4 linked regions of the Homo sapiens genome follow. The protein of the gene in region 3 purifies or fractionates together with the protein of the main gene of each other region. This does not show direct contact. Each region holds a gene or a part of one and is shown on either strand. Other genes may lie near its edges.

Region 1 (3,500 bases), on a different chromosome or scaffold from region 3:
GGCACAAAGCATTCTGAAAAGAGTGTAAAACTGGTCATTATAAATAAAGCCATAACTTACCAATCTGGGCCATAATCTGACAAAGAGCAATCTGTTTTAAATATGTGGATTTTCCACTCATGTTTGGTCCAGTTATGATCAAAAAATTACTCCCTTCTGTAACATAGGTATTGTTGGCAATAGGTTTTTCCGCAGATATTTTTTCAAGAATAGGATGCCATCCCTGTTTGATTGCTAAAGTATCAGTAAATTCTGGTCGAACTTAAGAAAAAAAATAGAATGGTTTTTAAAGATTAATATATTTGTGTCTAAAGATTTTGTAGTGTGTATGTATTGTCTATATCTTAGTGATTTTCACACTGGTCAATTTGGAATAATAACATTAAGGTACTATATTATCCCAAATCCCCACCCAAATTCTTCTAAATTATAATGGACACACTCTAATCACTATCACAACTTTTATTCACTTCTAGAGAACTCTAGAATTTAGTTCTTTACCACTGTCCTGAGCTCCAAAATAGTTTATAAAATTTTCAGCTTTTTGTAGATTAAAAAGAACCAAGCAGACCAGGCGTGATGGCTCATGCTGGTAATCCCAGCATTTGGGAGGCGGAGGAGGGCAGATTGCTTGATTGCTTGAGCTCAGGAGTTCAAGACCAGCCTAGGCAACATGGTCAAACCCTATCTCTACAAAAAAAAAAAAAAAATTAGCCAGGTGTAATGGCTCATGCCTGTAGTCCCAGCTACTTGTGGGGTTGAGATAGGAGGATCTCTTGAGCCTGGGAGGTGAAGACTGCAGTGAGCTGAGATTGTGCCACTGCACTCCAGCCTGGCTGACAAAGTGAGTCTCTGTCTCAAAAAAAAATAAAAATAAAAATAAAAAAGAACCAAGTACTCATTGATTGTACTTTAAAAATCATAGTTGGTTACTGGTAATACAGAGTTGCATATTTACTTACTCTACCTTAAACACTACTTCCCTACTTTAATATTATTTCAAATTTGGTACGCTTAGCATTTATTTATGTATTTATTAGAGACAGGGTCTTGGTCTATCACCCAGGCTGGAATACGGTGGCAAAATCATAGCTTATTGCAGCCTCAAACTCCTGGGCTCAAGCCATCCTCCTGCCTGCCTCAGCCTTTCAAGAAGCTGGGAGTACAGGCACCTGCCACCACTTCTCACCGATTTTTTTTTTTTTTTTTTTTTTTTTTAGAAATGAGGTCTAGCTATGTTGCCCAGGCTGGTTTCAAACACCTAGCTCATAAGTTGAGGTATGATTATAGAATAAAATCAAATATAAAAATAATTCTTTCTAAGCCCATGGAGAAATTTTGTATAAAAGGAAATTTCAGAGAATGAGAATAGAGAAGATCAACACAAATAATCTGCTAATCTATAGAAATAAATAAGGATCAGGTCTCTATGGATACCACCTGAAGTGGGGGGAGGAGGAAGAGGGTGAAAGCATATGTGAAAACCAAAATGTTCCATACCTTTATCTAAAATGCATAAACTTGAAAACATTCATCATAAAAGTGAGGTTAGAAAAAAAATTTTAAGTATTTTCAAAAATTCATTATTTATAGATATGGAGTTTCAGAATGATCCTTCTCAAACTAAAATGAAGCAAGACTAAATCTCTTAATAGTTTAAAAACAAAACTACCATTGGAATATCTGACCCCTAAAGTAGAGTTTTGATGCAAAGGAGATATAAAAGTTTGAAAAGTTTTGGCCTATAAAATACCAATAGAAAAAGTTAATATTTCCATAAGAAATATGAAAAAATCTTAAGATACATCCCATAAAAGTAAATTAACATAACATTTTAGAAATTTTACTGCTGATTTACATTAGAAATTTCAATGTTTTTAATGTAATGAAGTCTACAATTATTCAACCATAATTATCACATACTAGTCCAGTAAATTTGCATACTGGAGTATGGTTATTACTGGTAAGTTAGATAAGAAATGTCAAAGCACTAACTCGAAGTATTCATTTAACATGAGAAAATTACTTAACATTTATATTCATGGCCTTTTTATAGACTTGGGATATAAAAATAAATTACATAATTCCTAATTTTGGTATGTTCACATCTAAAGAGCTAGTGGATTAAAATGCTCACTCTGGAGATGCATTTCTCTCTATTAACGTTTATCACGCTGCTTCTAATAAGTATTCAGATTTGAACTTTATAAATTTAGATCACTGTCATTTTTACCAAGGAGACAGCTCTTACAGTCTTTCTTATTTGGGGAATCTTTAGTTTCTTGCAATTTTTTCTTTTTGGTTTGCCAATTTCTGAGAGAATAATTTTTACTTCAAAAAAAATTTTAAGGGTAATCTCACTTTCTTTATTTTGTGTCTTAGTCTAGGACCAGAGGCAAGAGACTCTATTTCAAGTTAAAAATTTTAAATGTCATAACTATTATATCAAATTGTTTGAATCGAATACAAATTTAACTATGCAATATGTTTATTCCAAAGAAAGCAACTTACCATAGTCAGAAAGAGTGCAGGCATGAGCAAATGACAGTAGCATATCCAGCATTGACACAGTGTCAGATAGTTTATATAAGCAATGAATATGTTCATAAATCTCACTAAGCAGTTTGCACACTATCCTGAAAACACGTTTGGTAAGACATGTAATAATGTTTTTTCAAAAGGGACATACATTGTAATCGTAAAATAATATTAAATTCATTGCCTGAAGTAAAATAATATTCACATCTGAGTTATACACTATAGATAAAGCCTATTGTTCATCTGTCTCATTTTAGAGATGAGGAAATTGAAGTTTTTGCTCAAGATCACAGCTACTTAGTGGCAAAGAATCTATCTTCTTGTGTATTAACATAACATTTTTGAAATAACTGCTTTTATATGATATTAATAAAATAAGTTTTTATTATTAAGAATATTTGATATAGGTCAAATCAAGCCCTCATTATACTTGGAAAGATCCCATTTGCTAATCACTTTGTGAATTTGCAAATGTTAAGTTCAACACAAAAACTATATGCATTTTCTCTCTCATCCATTTTTTCTTTCTCTCTCGTTCTTGTTCTCTCACTCACACACATGCACACAGACACAATATCTGAATAATATAATTATTTAAGTTTTTATAAGGCAGAGTTATACTGTGATATAGTGCAAAAAGTTTTTCTCTTGCAAAGATAAATATGTACCCAAAACTTACTATATATTAAAATGTTGGTGGTACATGCCTTGAAATTGTCTTGAAAGCCCAACCTTTCTCTTTATTACTTCAGCCTAATAAGTGTTCTAAATCTTCTACTTCTTCTTTCTGGCTGTATTGCTACTATTTCATGACCAGCAAAAGAACTGACACTATTGTGATATTGCTATTGAATTATTAATATCAAGGTATAAGAAGCTGAGGACTTACAGACCATAGGAAAATAATAAACTGAACGAAGCCCAGGTAAGCCCCTGATGTGCCAAGTTCTACATCATGGTAG
Region 2 (4,162 bases), on a different chromosome or scaffold from region 3:
CCCGGCCGAAGTATTTGTTTCTAACAAGAGCATTCTGGACATTAAAGGGCCTTAGAGTATGAGAGAAAAAAGCCAGAAAAAAAAAAGGAATAGTAATAATAATTTTTTAAAAAGTAGAAATAAAAAGGTAAGGAGTTAACATCCATTAGATTCCATTTTCTATTCAAATATGTATATTTACATACAGTACTGCTGAATTGACTCACAGTTCTTAGGTCCTATAGAGGAGTGCAGTGAAAAGGAAGACAATTTACACAGTACAGAGCTGAACATAGGACTTACAAACAAAAAAAAAGTCAAGGAATACAAAGTAGCTTTCCCAGGTGTAAAGTACCGGGTCTAGAATTCTATGAGGCTAGGGAGAAGATAAACGACAAAAGCTATAAGAGATCAGAATGAAAAGAGATCCACAAGCCTAAGAAGCCCAGGCCCTTGAGGAGAACCATGAATTTGAGCAGGATTTCACTAATTCCTTTAAAAAGTAGCCATTGCCTCAAAGTACGACTCCATCAGCATAGGCAGGAAAGTGGGAGTGAGGAAAGGCTTAGAGTTTTCCAGCCTGGCTGGGGTCAGACAATTTGCCTGGGGAAATAGTGGGAGCTGAGGTTGAAAAGACCGATTGGCTTCACGTTTGTGGCAGGCCTTGTCCAAAAAGCAATAGGAAGTCGTTGAAAGGTTTTGTGCAGGGGAGCGACAGGATTAAGGCACTACTTAGTAGGAAGTCATATCAAAAGCAGCAACCTGACAAATGGCAAATACGACAGAAGGAAAAAAAATAACAGGAATTTTCTTCACAATGACTCGACTTTGAGGTAATAAATGCCTGAGCCACATTGGAAGCAGGGGTCTCAGAAGGAAGGCGCAGATGGGAAAGGCTTTTCTGGGCGGTGGCGTTTCAATGCAAGGAGGGCGCTTGAATCACTGACAGACTTCAAGTTAAGGGAGTTTTCGTGGCTGAGGTTAGTAAGTCACACGCACAGCTCTCCAAAGGCATGTATGGGGAACGCCAGCCTTGGCTAAAAGACTGATTCAAGTTATGTCCGTCACCCTGAGCAACCAAAACCACCCACTACAGGGCAGGTGACCCCACAAAGCAAACCAAGCCATCTGGTCCACGCTCCCCACCTCCCGGAGGGAGATGGAAAAGTTTCGGGAGTAGTCCCCGGCCAATCGGAAAGACATTTTTTCATTCCTCAACCACTACTCTCAGGTGCTCCAGGGAGGGAGGATGACTTCCTGACGGTCCTCCTGCCGCTCCTCCCTCGGGCCAATTATGAAACTCTGGGCACTCTTGACCTCACCCCGTTAGGGCCCGGGAGGGGCTCCCTAGTATAAAGTTCGCAGCACCAGACAGTTGAGCTCACTTGCCTGATATTTCCAGTGTCAGAGGGACACAGCCAACGTGGGGTCCCTTCTAGGCTGACAGCCGCTCTCCAGCCACTGCCGCGAGCCCGTCTGCTCCCGCCCTGCCCGTGCACTCTCCGCAGCCGCCCTCCGCCAAGCCCCAGCGCCCGCTCCCATCGCCGATGACCGCGGGGAGGAGGATGGAGATGCTCTGTGCCGGCAGGGTCCCTGCGCTGCTGCTCTGCCTGGGTAAGTTCTCCCCCTCTGGCTTCCGGCCGCCCCAAAGAGGAGACAAATAAGGAAGGCTCCTGTGCATTTGTCATTCGACAAGTACGGAGTTGTCTCCAGGTTCAAGTGTGCTCTATTTAAAATTACGTCTTGTTTTGTGAGTCTGTCTTCCCCTATGGTGGGACTGGGGTGGGGGGGACTGGGGATCGATGTTAAAATGCTTTTTATTGGTGAATTAATTATTGGCATATATGTTATGCATGGATTGAAATATCTCCTTATTAAACAAAATAAAAAGTTGTTGAAAAAGCTTTTTTTTTTTTTTTGAAAAGTTGCCAGTCCTAGAAATCTAAAGGCCTGGAACGCACTGTTAACATTTCATGTCTTGTTCCTTTTTGTTGGAGAGTGGGGAATAGAAACTAGCGTAAGAAATTTTTTGGAGGGGGGAAAAAGCTTTTCTCCTCTGTCTTGCGCTCAGTTTTCTAAAACCTAGCCTGGTTTAGCTTTCCCGGAGGAGCTGGTATGCGCCAGTGCCAGTTGGCTGAGCTCCAGACACAAGAGAAATAAAACACTGGTCGAGGGTATCTGGAGCAGAAGGGCCCTGGGCAGGTCCTGGCGCTCCCCACCGCCCTTCGCCCCTACACCTGCTGCTTGCGTTTTTCCCTGCAGCCTCCCAAGCAGCCTCTGGAGCAAGCGTTCTGCACTTGCTGCTAATTGCACTCCATAGCCTGTGATCGCTGAGGGTATTTAAATGCCAGTCTTCCTATTTGAGATGATTTAGTTCAAGGGGAAAAATTTTCTAAATAGCCTTTCTGTTAAAAAAAAATTACTTCTTTCCAATTCCTTAAACTTCAGTTTAAGGAATTTGAAAGAGTTTGAAGTCGTATATGAATATCTTAATAAAAAAATAAAAGTTACCACCAGTCTCATATTCTCCCTGGAGTTGGAATGAGGCTGATTCCCCAGACACTCTAACTCTACCTGTGAAGGATGTGACTGTTAAATTATTATTTTGGCACACCTTATCTCAGGGGTTGAGAGACCTAATGAAATGCATACTATGCATAATTGAAACTTACAAGTCTAAGTCCAGGAACACAAGTGGAAACTAGATATGTGGTTTCTGCCAAAACTGAGCTAAGAAAGACTTGCTAGAAGATTCTCAGTAAACAATGTGGCTTTGCTGTCTTTGTTTTGAAAAGAATTAAATTAGAAAGGTGACAGTCTTCCTAGAGTTAGAAATTAACCTCGAGGTCAGAATAACTTAGCACTTATTATTTTCCCCACATGTAAGGTTGCATCTGAACAATGCACATGTCTGTTCTGGGTGTTTCATTGAATATTCTAATTTGAGACAGCCAGAGCCTGTGAATAACCTGGTTACTACCCACTAGTGTGTGTGTTGTGTGTGTGTTTGTTGTCATGAAAGTGCTTACCTCCTTCATTGCATTACTTAATTATAGTTCATCTATTTCGTCAGCTGCCAAGCCCATTTCCAAATGAGTTAGGTCAGTTTCTGTTTTCCCAGTTTGTTTGGATATTTCTCTGCCACTAGGAAAGTTCCTGTTTCAAGTTCTGTATTATATCTCTAAACTCTATTCAGTTATGCAGAGCCCATAGCCTTATTTTGGCAAGACCACCTGTTATTTCTGAAATTGCCTTCTTTCCCCCAAACAAAATATTTCCTAAAAATACTTTTCCCAAATCTTGTCCTTCCCCCAGCAAAAAAGAGCGAGACATTTATTTTAAATTTTAGCATACATGTTATAACTGCTTTATGTAGTTATGACTAGGGAATAAAGTTCCAGCCTCCACCCTTAACACATACAGATTTAAATTGCTATGCACAATCATTTGGTTACTTTTAAATTTTACACTTGTTTAATATTGAGGCTCTTGTTTTATAAATTGGGGAACTGTGACCCAAGTTCACATAGAAAAATAGTGACAAAGTGAGAGTCCACACTTGGGCTTGCTAGCATTTTTGGCCTACTGAACATTAAGTAGAAGAGTTGAAATACCGGATAACATTTTTTTAAATAATCTATAATTTTAGAGCAGAATTTTGTCTTTTTTATCTTGTGATTTTTCTAAAGAGAGGAGGATAAATTTTTATGTTGAATTCTGCAGTTATGTTCAGGGGCTTTCTATTTAACATCAAACATTTTTATTCATGCCTACATGGGTTTTTGAATATGTTCCTGAATGACATCTCCAAGATAATTTAGTCGTACTTCATCAATGAGAGAGAATTAAGCAGAAGAAATATTCTTTTTTGAAAATATGAGGAGCATAAATCTCAATGAGACAATAGGCTTGTCTTTGATCATTTCTGTTGACTCTGAGAGTTTATGAGTTACCTGAGTCTTGGCACAACCTGAGATGACAAATCTTGTCAGAAAACGTGATGACAGGCCTTTCCTGTCTGGATTTTGACCAGGTACCCTCACCACCTTCTGCACAGTCTTGCCATGTGAGCAGCTTGGGTAATTGGGGTGTCTGATTCAGCACTAAGACCCAAATCCAGGAGTTGAGAAGAAAACTAACAGTTACTAAATGCCTACTGTGTGGCAGCCATGTTGTGTATTAG
Region 3 (3,500 bases):
TTTTTTTTTTTTGAGATGAAGTCTTGCTCTGTCACCCAGGCTGTAGTGCAGTGGTGCAATCTCGGCTCACCGCAACCTCCACCTCCCAGGTTCAAGCAATTCTCCTGCCTCAACCTCCCAAGTAGCTGGGATTACAGGCGTGAGCCACCACACTTGGCAAATCTTTATATTTTTGGTAGAGATGGGGTTTCACCATGTTGGCCAGGCTCATCTCGAACTCCTGACCTCAAGTGATTCGCCTGCCTCTGCCTCCCAAAGTGCTGGGATTACAGGCGTGAGCGACCGTGCCTGGCCCATGTTACTACTTTTAAAAGGAGAAGGGTATGAATTATCTTAACACTTTATTTTCAGATAATTTAATCACATTTATTTTTCAATTCCATTTCTCTATTATGTAAACCAGGGGTTGGAAAACTGTGGCCTATGGGCCAACTCTGGCCTGTTTTTGTACATAAAGTTTTAGAAAAACTTTTAATAAAACACAACATGCCCATTAATTTAGGTGGTTCTATAGCTGCTTGCACATTACAATGGCAAAGTTGAGTAGCTGAAACAGAGACCCTGTGGCCTGCAAAGCATATTTACTATATGGACCTTTATAGAAAAAGTTTGCTGATCTATGATTTAAACTATTCTAAGCTTTTCTTAAATGAATACTTTTTCTATATATTAAAAGAAAAAAAGACAAGGATAGGAAAGGAAAACAATGAGAGAAAAAGATTCTTCTAGGATGTAAAAATGGCAAAACAGGCCATATATGGTGGCCCCTGCCTGTAATCACAGAGTTTTGGGAGGCAGAGGCAGGAGGATTGCTTGAGGCCAAGAGTTCAAGACCAGCCTGGGCAACATAGCAAGACCTCATCTCTACAAAAAAAGTCAAAAAATTAAGTGGGCATTGTGGCATGTGCCTGTAGTCCCAGCTACACAGGAGGCTGACGTGAGCTACACAGGAGGCTGAGCCCAGGAGTTTGAGGCTGCAGTGAGCTATGATAGCATCACTGCACTCCAGCCTAGGTGATAGAGTGATACAGTAAGACCCTGTTTCAAACAGAAAAGAAAAAAAATTGCAAAACAAACATTGATTCCAACTATACCTAAGAAATACTCGAAACTTTAGGATAAAGCTGAGCTCTAATTCAGTATTGTCAAGAAAGTATACCTTAAAGAACATTTTATAAATGAAGTTCCTACAAGATGACTATTACTTCTGAAGTGGGAATGCACCATGAATATAGAACTTGCAAGAGTGAATTTAAGGGGTAGAAATGTGGAATTTTATAACCTGGCAATGAAAGTGACTGAAACCACATTAGTCAGGCAAAATAAGCTGATCTCTCTAACTACAGGTAAAATAACATTCCAAACATTGAAAAATGTACACAATCAAAATTGTACGTGGTAGGGGTTTAAGAAACCATTTCCCCTGCTAATTTTTGATGTTTACATGGAATGTTCTTACAGCAGCAAATAACTTACCAATAATCTTGACAGACTGAAAATGATACATCTTTACCACAACATAAATTAATTCTCTCAATGGGAAATTGCTAAAATAGGCAAGGTGTCAGAAAGATTTCTTTATGTCTGAAGGAAGGGAAATGATTCCATTTCTTCCAAACATTCTTACATGAAAAATAATAAACTCTCACTTTTAAACTGTCTTTATTTTCATGGGGTCCTAGGCACCCGTCACTAATTGGGGCAGTCACAGTTATCTGGGGTTGGACATGAGTCAGTCCATATTACTTCAGGTATAAAACACAGCCAATGGGAAACTGTTCCCATAATTCATATTATATGTGAATAAGTATCATAGCAATACCCAGAAAAGAGGATTGCGGAATTACACTACACTCTCTTTCATTCCTTAGATTTACAACATAAATGTTACAAAAAGATCCTGGAAAGTCAATCTTCACAAAATAAAATATAAGGGAAACATGGTGGTCTATTCAAGGAAATGGACAAATGCCTAACACAAATGAACTGGTTTGTCCTCTAGAAGCATGACCTTGATTCTGTTCCTAAAATACAAAGTTGAAAACCCCAGATGAAAGAAATGAACATTTATTGAGCACTGTGTTATACATGTGCTATCACATTTAACTTTGACAAAAAATCTATATAATGGGTATTAGTGACTTGCCCAAGGTGACACCATTTGTAAAGAAAGAAGTTAAGGCAGCAACTCTGGTTTATCTCCCATACCTAATCTGTCTTCAAAATGTTCAATCCTGATTGAACACACGGTGTCTGTCAACCATGAGTCCCCTGAGATGCCCCATAAAGAAAGAGGTCCCCTAATCAGAGCAACTAAGTTTGGGAAATTTACTAAATCCTCCCCTTGGAGACTAACAGTGCATATTAAAGCCCCGAATTAAAGAAATCCATTTAACTTTGTCTAACTCATCATCTCCCCAAACTTACTAGGAAATCCCTTTTCCCCAACTAGTATTTTGTGAAGTTAGTATTCTGAAACACACTTTGCACAATGGAAAATGGATGACAGAGAAATACGTAAACTGTCAGAGAAGATAATTTTAATCATGGCTAAGGAGATGATGGTGTGGTTACAAGTGGGTTCTCTTTGCTCTTCGATTCAACCAAAATTTTGAATAAGACCCCCAGTGCCCTAGTCCCCGCCTACCTCCTCAGTCTCATCTTACACTCGGGCCACCTGGCCTTTCAGTAATGGGGACCTGCCAGGCTGTCCCCCTCCATGGAGCCTTTGCAGAATGTTCCCTTTGTGACATTGCTCCCCCTTTCCTCTTTACTTAGTTGACTCCTATTTATCTTTCAAAGGAAGCCTTTCCTGACTGGGTCAAACTTCTCTCCGGATGCCCTCCTATCACAGAATTCTATATAGCACTTGTCATGATTACAGGGTTATATTTATTTGCGTATTGATTTGATTAGTGACGGTCTATACTCCCACTGGGGGAAGAGAGCTATTTCTCTGTTTCTCAGACAGCACAAACATGCGGACCTCTTCCACCATCTCTATTCACTCCTGCCCAAGGAGGAACAGTGACTTAATGAAGCATGAACTAGGGAAGAAGGGCTGGGCACGCTCTGCTCAGGGTCCAGAGTGCGCTCTGGTCAGCTACCACCCTGGGGTAAGCTGAGAAGTGCACTTTGGGAAATAAATTGAATTCTGGGAAGACATACTAGGAAGCCCAATTGTTACAGATCCAAGCTCCATTCTGTGGTTTAGCTTTATGTAATAATACAGTTGATATTTTGTTCTTCGTCTATGACTGCTATTTTACTTTTTAATCATTTCCACACTTGGGAGAGGAAGACAAGAGTGATCTTGTTTGGCCCCTAGAATGCCAATATCCTCCAACAGGTGTAAGCTCCTGAGGTCAGGGCAGGGGGCCTCTCTCTGCTCACCTCAGTAGCTCAGTTTCTGGCACTTGTGAGGCATTCAAAATGCCATTTCGCCCAGGCTGGTCTTGAAATCCTGGCCTCAGGTGATCCTCCTGCCTCAGCCTCCCAAA
Region 4 (3,500 bases), on a different chromosome or scaffold from region 3:
CTAGTACTCAATCTTTGTTAGGGCAAGTCCAGAACAGTCTTTAGAACTAATCTGGCCTCGGCCTCACTACTGAGACAATAACCCTTCTGAGGGTTCTACTTGATACGCTGTGTATTGAGGCCTTTCCATTCTGGTTAGTGGGAATGTGTAGCACAGTCTCAGCCCTATGAGCTTCCCAAACTGTTCTTTCTTTCCTCTTGCTTTTCCCTAGACTTGGAAGTTCCTCATGGACAGGATCAGATCAGTTTTCAGCTAGACACTCGAAGGGACACCCTGTGAATATCTGGAGCTCTTTTTCTGTGCAGCCCTGGTACTCTGCTCCAAAGTCACTTAGGCCTCCCCACACTCTGAATTCTGTTTCTTCAACTGAAGGAGCTGCCACATCTGTTTGGAATTTCCCATCCCTGTGCTGCAATCTGAAAACTCTCAAGGCAGTGAAGTGGGTCAATCTAGGGCTCAGCTTCATTTGTTTCCTTCATTTGTGCCTGATGGAACTTTGTAACTAATTTTTAAAAGAAATCATTTGCTGATCTGGGAGCCTCCTCCAGCTACTCCAGCCCTGTTTTTTTCTCTCTTTCATAGCAGAGCTATTCCAAAGAGTTGACTATACTTGCTATGTCCCCTTTTTCATCTTCTATTATTTCTTCTACTCCAGCTGGGCTTTCCTTCTCACCACTCCACCAAAACATGCCAATGGCACATATCTAATTAAATTACTTTCCCATACTTTCATCTTCTCAGTGGACATAGTTAACCAATGTCCTTCCTTCTTGAGATGCTTTTATTCTAAAAATGAAGAAAATCTTTTCAGTAGCTCCTCCTCTGAGTCCCAGAGCACAGCATTCCATGCGATTCATAAGCTGAAGACTCTCAGATTTATAGGACCAACTCATGACTTCCAAATTATACACTTCTAGCACAAACTGCTCTAATGTGCATATTCTCACATATCCAATCAGGACGAAAGAGGCACATTTCAAACTGAACAAGTCCATCCCTTCTACATCCCCCACCCCTAACTGTCCCTTCCCTGTAAGAGGCCCACTCATCTATCCAGCTGCTCAACTTGGAGGTTCATCCTCGGATTCTCTCTCTCCATCTAGTACATTCAAATCCACCAGCAAGTTCTGTTGGTTCTGGCTCCTCAAAATATATCTCAAATCCATCCATTTCTCTTCATTTCCACTAGCACCAACCCTACTTAAAGCCACCATCATCACTCTTGCCCAGTATGACTCATTCTCCACATGGTAGCCAGAATAATCTTGAAAAACCATTAAATCAGATCATGTCACTCCCTTAAACTCGCTAATAGCTTACTTCATTTCAACACAGTCAAAACTTCTCATGGTAGCCTAACAATCCCTTCCTGATCTGGATCGTGAGTACGTATGTGTCCTCATCTCCTAATCTACAACCCCCTGCTCACTCTGCTCTGAGTACAATGGCCTCCTGTTTCAGCTCAGGCTCTGTGCACCTGTAGGTCTCTCTGGATTATTCCTCATGCAGATCTTCCCACGGCTCATTACCACCACTCAAGTTTCAGGCCACATGTTTCCTAACCACCTACCCAAAGAAAATTATCCTTCTCCTTCTAACTAAAATTCTGTAGTATCTTGTTCCACTGCCACATAAGAACATATGGTGGCATCCTCCTGGAGTTTCAGCTACTCAGGAGGCTGAGGTGGGAGGAGCCTGGAGCCCAGGAGGCTGAGGCTGCAATGAGCCGAGATCACACCACTACACTCCAGCCTGGGCAACAGAGGGAGACCTTGTCTCAAAAAAAATAAATAAATAAATAAATAAAATAATAAAAATAATAATAAATTCTGGCTCTAATCTCAAATTCTCATGACAATAAAAGTTATTTTCTGACTACTGCATCCAATTACATCTTTAAATCCTTTAGAGACTGGCTTTTAGAACTTGACCCTTCTTAAACTGGAACCAACTATCCATGCACCTTTACTTCCATGCAAATTATGTCTACATAATATGCAAATGAGATTAACTCAAGATTTAATGACTATTCTCTAAACACATAAAATTCTTTTGGAAACAGATTTAAATATAATGGCAACAGAATATTCTCATTACAACAGGAAACTACCATAGGCCTACTGCATCTTACAGTCAAGAAAACCTGGGGCATGTGGAAGCAGAGCTAGAGGCTAGAGTAAGGCCTTACATCTAGTAACTCCGAGTTTGATGCTTTTTCCTATTAATAATTACCTAAATTAGCTGGGCATGGTGGCACACACCTGTAGCCCCAGCTACTCAGGAGGCTGAGGCACGAGAATCGCTTGAATCTGGGAGGTGGAGGTGGCAATGAGCCGAGATCATGCCACTGCACTCCAGCCTGGGTGACAGAGTGAACTCTCTCTCAATAGTAATAATAATAATAACAACCTAAGTTAAAATACATAGTTTTTCACAATCATATCATACAACTCTCTAAGGACACAAAATACATCTAACACTTTTATGTCACACAATCCCAAATACAAAATATAATGTTAAGTATCTTCTGAGAACAAAAAGCAAGGCCGTTCTAAAAATTCTATTAGTGTTTGGTAATAATGAAATTCATCTGTACATGATTTTTCATACACTGCCTTATTCACTCCTCAGAGCTATTTTGTAAGGTAGCTCAGAAGACTTAAGAAATGCAGAGACTAAAGTTCTTTCAGTGACGTTAAGTGACTTGTCAATGGATACAAAATCAAGGTAGGGAAAGTTTCCTTAGGATACACAATTGCTATTTGGATGCTCAGAGGATATACAATTGCTACATTATCAAAATAGTTCATCCCAATATATAAAAAGATTAGAACCTATATTAAATCATTCACAGGACATTTTAAACCTCAGGTCATGTTTGCCCCTAGATTCACTCTAAGGTCACATCCAATTTCTTCAGTCAGTACTTGCTATACTGAGGGAAATTCAACCAAAACGATTTGCTTAAATAATCTGCTTTGCAATTCAGCAAGTGATTATCACAACACATATCCAAAAACTGAACCAAAACTTTAAAGATAACCTCCATTACAACAAATACTTGAGGGAGGGCTTTATCTTTTAAAAAATTGATTGTATCTGCATTGATCAAAGCTACACCTCAGATAACATATTATAGTAGATGTAATAAGTACAGCAAGTTTGCTTTTGTTTTTCATATACCTATTACAGCAGGGTTGGTAGATGGAATTCACTTCATATATTTAAAGGTGCAAAGTTGAGTGTCCACTATATTTAAAATACTGTAAGAACTCAAAATCACTACCTATTATTACAGGATTTAATACACCTAATCAAGAAAGATTTTCTACAGTTTATAAATGTGTTGAAGGCAACAGTTAGCATCAATAAATTAAAAGCAATTCTAGGGCCAGGTGCAGTGGTTCTCGCCTATAATCTCAGCACTTTGGGAGACCAAGGTGGGTGGATCACTTGAGCCCAAGAGTTTGAGAACAGCCCAGGCAACATGGTGAATATTT

Evidence for each region.
Region 1: the proteins of JAZF1 (region 3) and MSH4 purify together in Homo sapiens (affinity purification with mass spectrometry; one large-scale study listed by BioGRID and IntAct). This does not show direct contact.
Region 2: the proteins of JAZF1 (region 3) and EREG purify together in Homo sapiens (affinity purification with mass spectrometry; one large-scale study listed by BioGRID and IntAct). This does not show direct contact.
Region 4: the proteins of JAZF1 (region 3) and EPC1 purify together in Homo sapiens (affinity purification with mass spectrometry; 2 studies listed by BioGRID and IntAct, with this or other methods). This does not show direct contact.

The regions. Positions count from the first base shown.
Region 1 is NC_000001.11:75,880,382-75,883,881, reverse strand, and holds part of MSH4 (mutS protein homolog 4), read right to left. Parts: intron 2,637-3,500; coding exon 2,512-2,636; intron 262-2,511; coding exon 61-261; intron 1-60. UniProt on the Homo sapiens protein: Involved in meiotic recombination. Required for reciprocal recombination and proper segregation of homologous chromosomes at meiosis.
Region 2 is NC_000004.12:74,363,783-74,367,944, forward strand, and holds the start of EREG (proepiregulin preproprotein), read left to right. Parts: upstream 1-1,362; 5' UTR 1,363-1,526; coding exon 1,527-1,593; intron 1,594-4,162. UniProt on the Homo sapiens protein: Ligand of the EGF receptor/EGFR and ERBB4. Stimulates EGFR and ERBB4 tyrosine phosphorylation.
Region 3 is NC_000007.14:27,890,796-27,894,295, forward strand, and holds part of JAZF1 (juxtaposed with another zinc finger protein 1), read right to left. Parts: intron 1-3,500. UniProt on the Homo sapiens protein: Acts as a transcriptional corepressor of orphan nuclear receptor NR2C2. Inhibits expression of the gluconeogenesis enzyme PCK2 through inhibition of NR2C2 activity.
Region 4 is NC_000010.11:32,337,159-32,340,658, forward strand, and holds part of EPC1 (enhancer of polycomb homolog 1), read right to left. Parts: intron 1-3,500. UniProt on the Homo sapiens protein: Component of the NuA4 histone acetyltransferase (HAT) complex, a multiprotein complex involved in transcriptional activation of select genes principally by acetylation of nucleosomal histones H4 and H2A.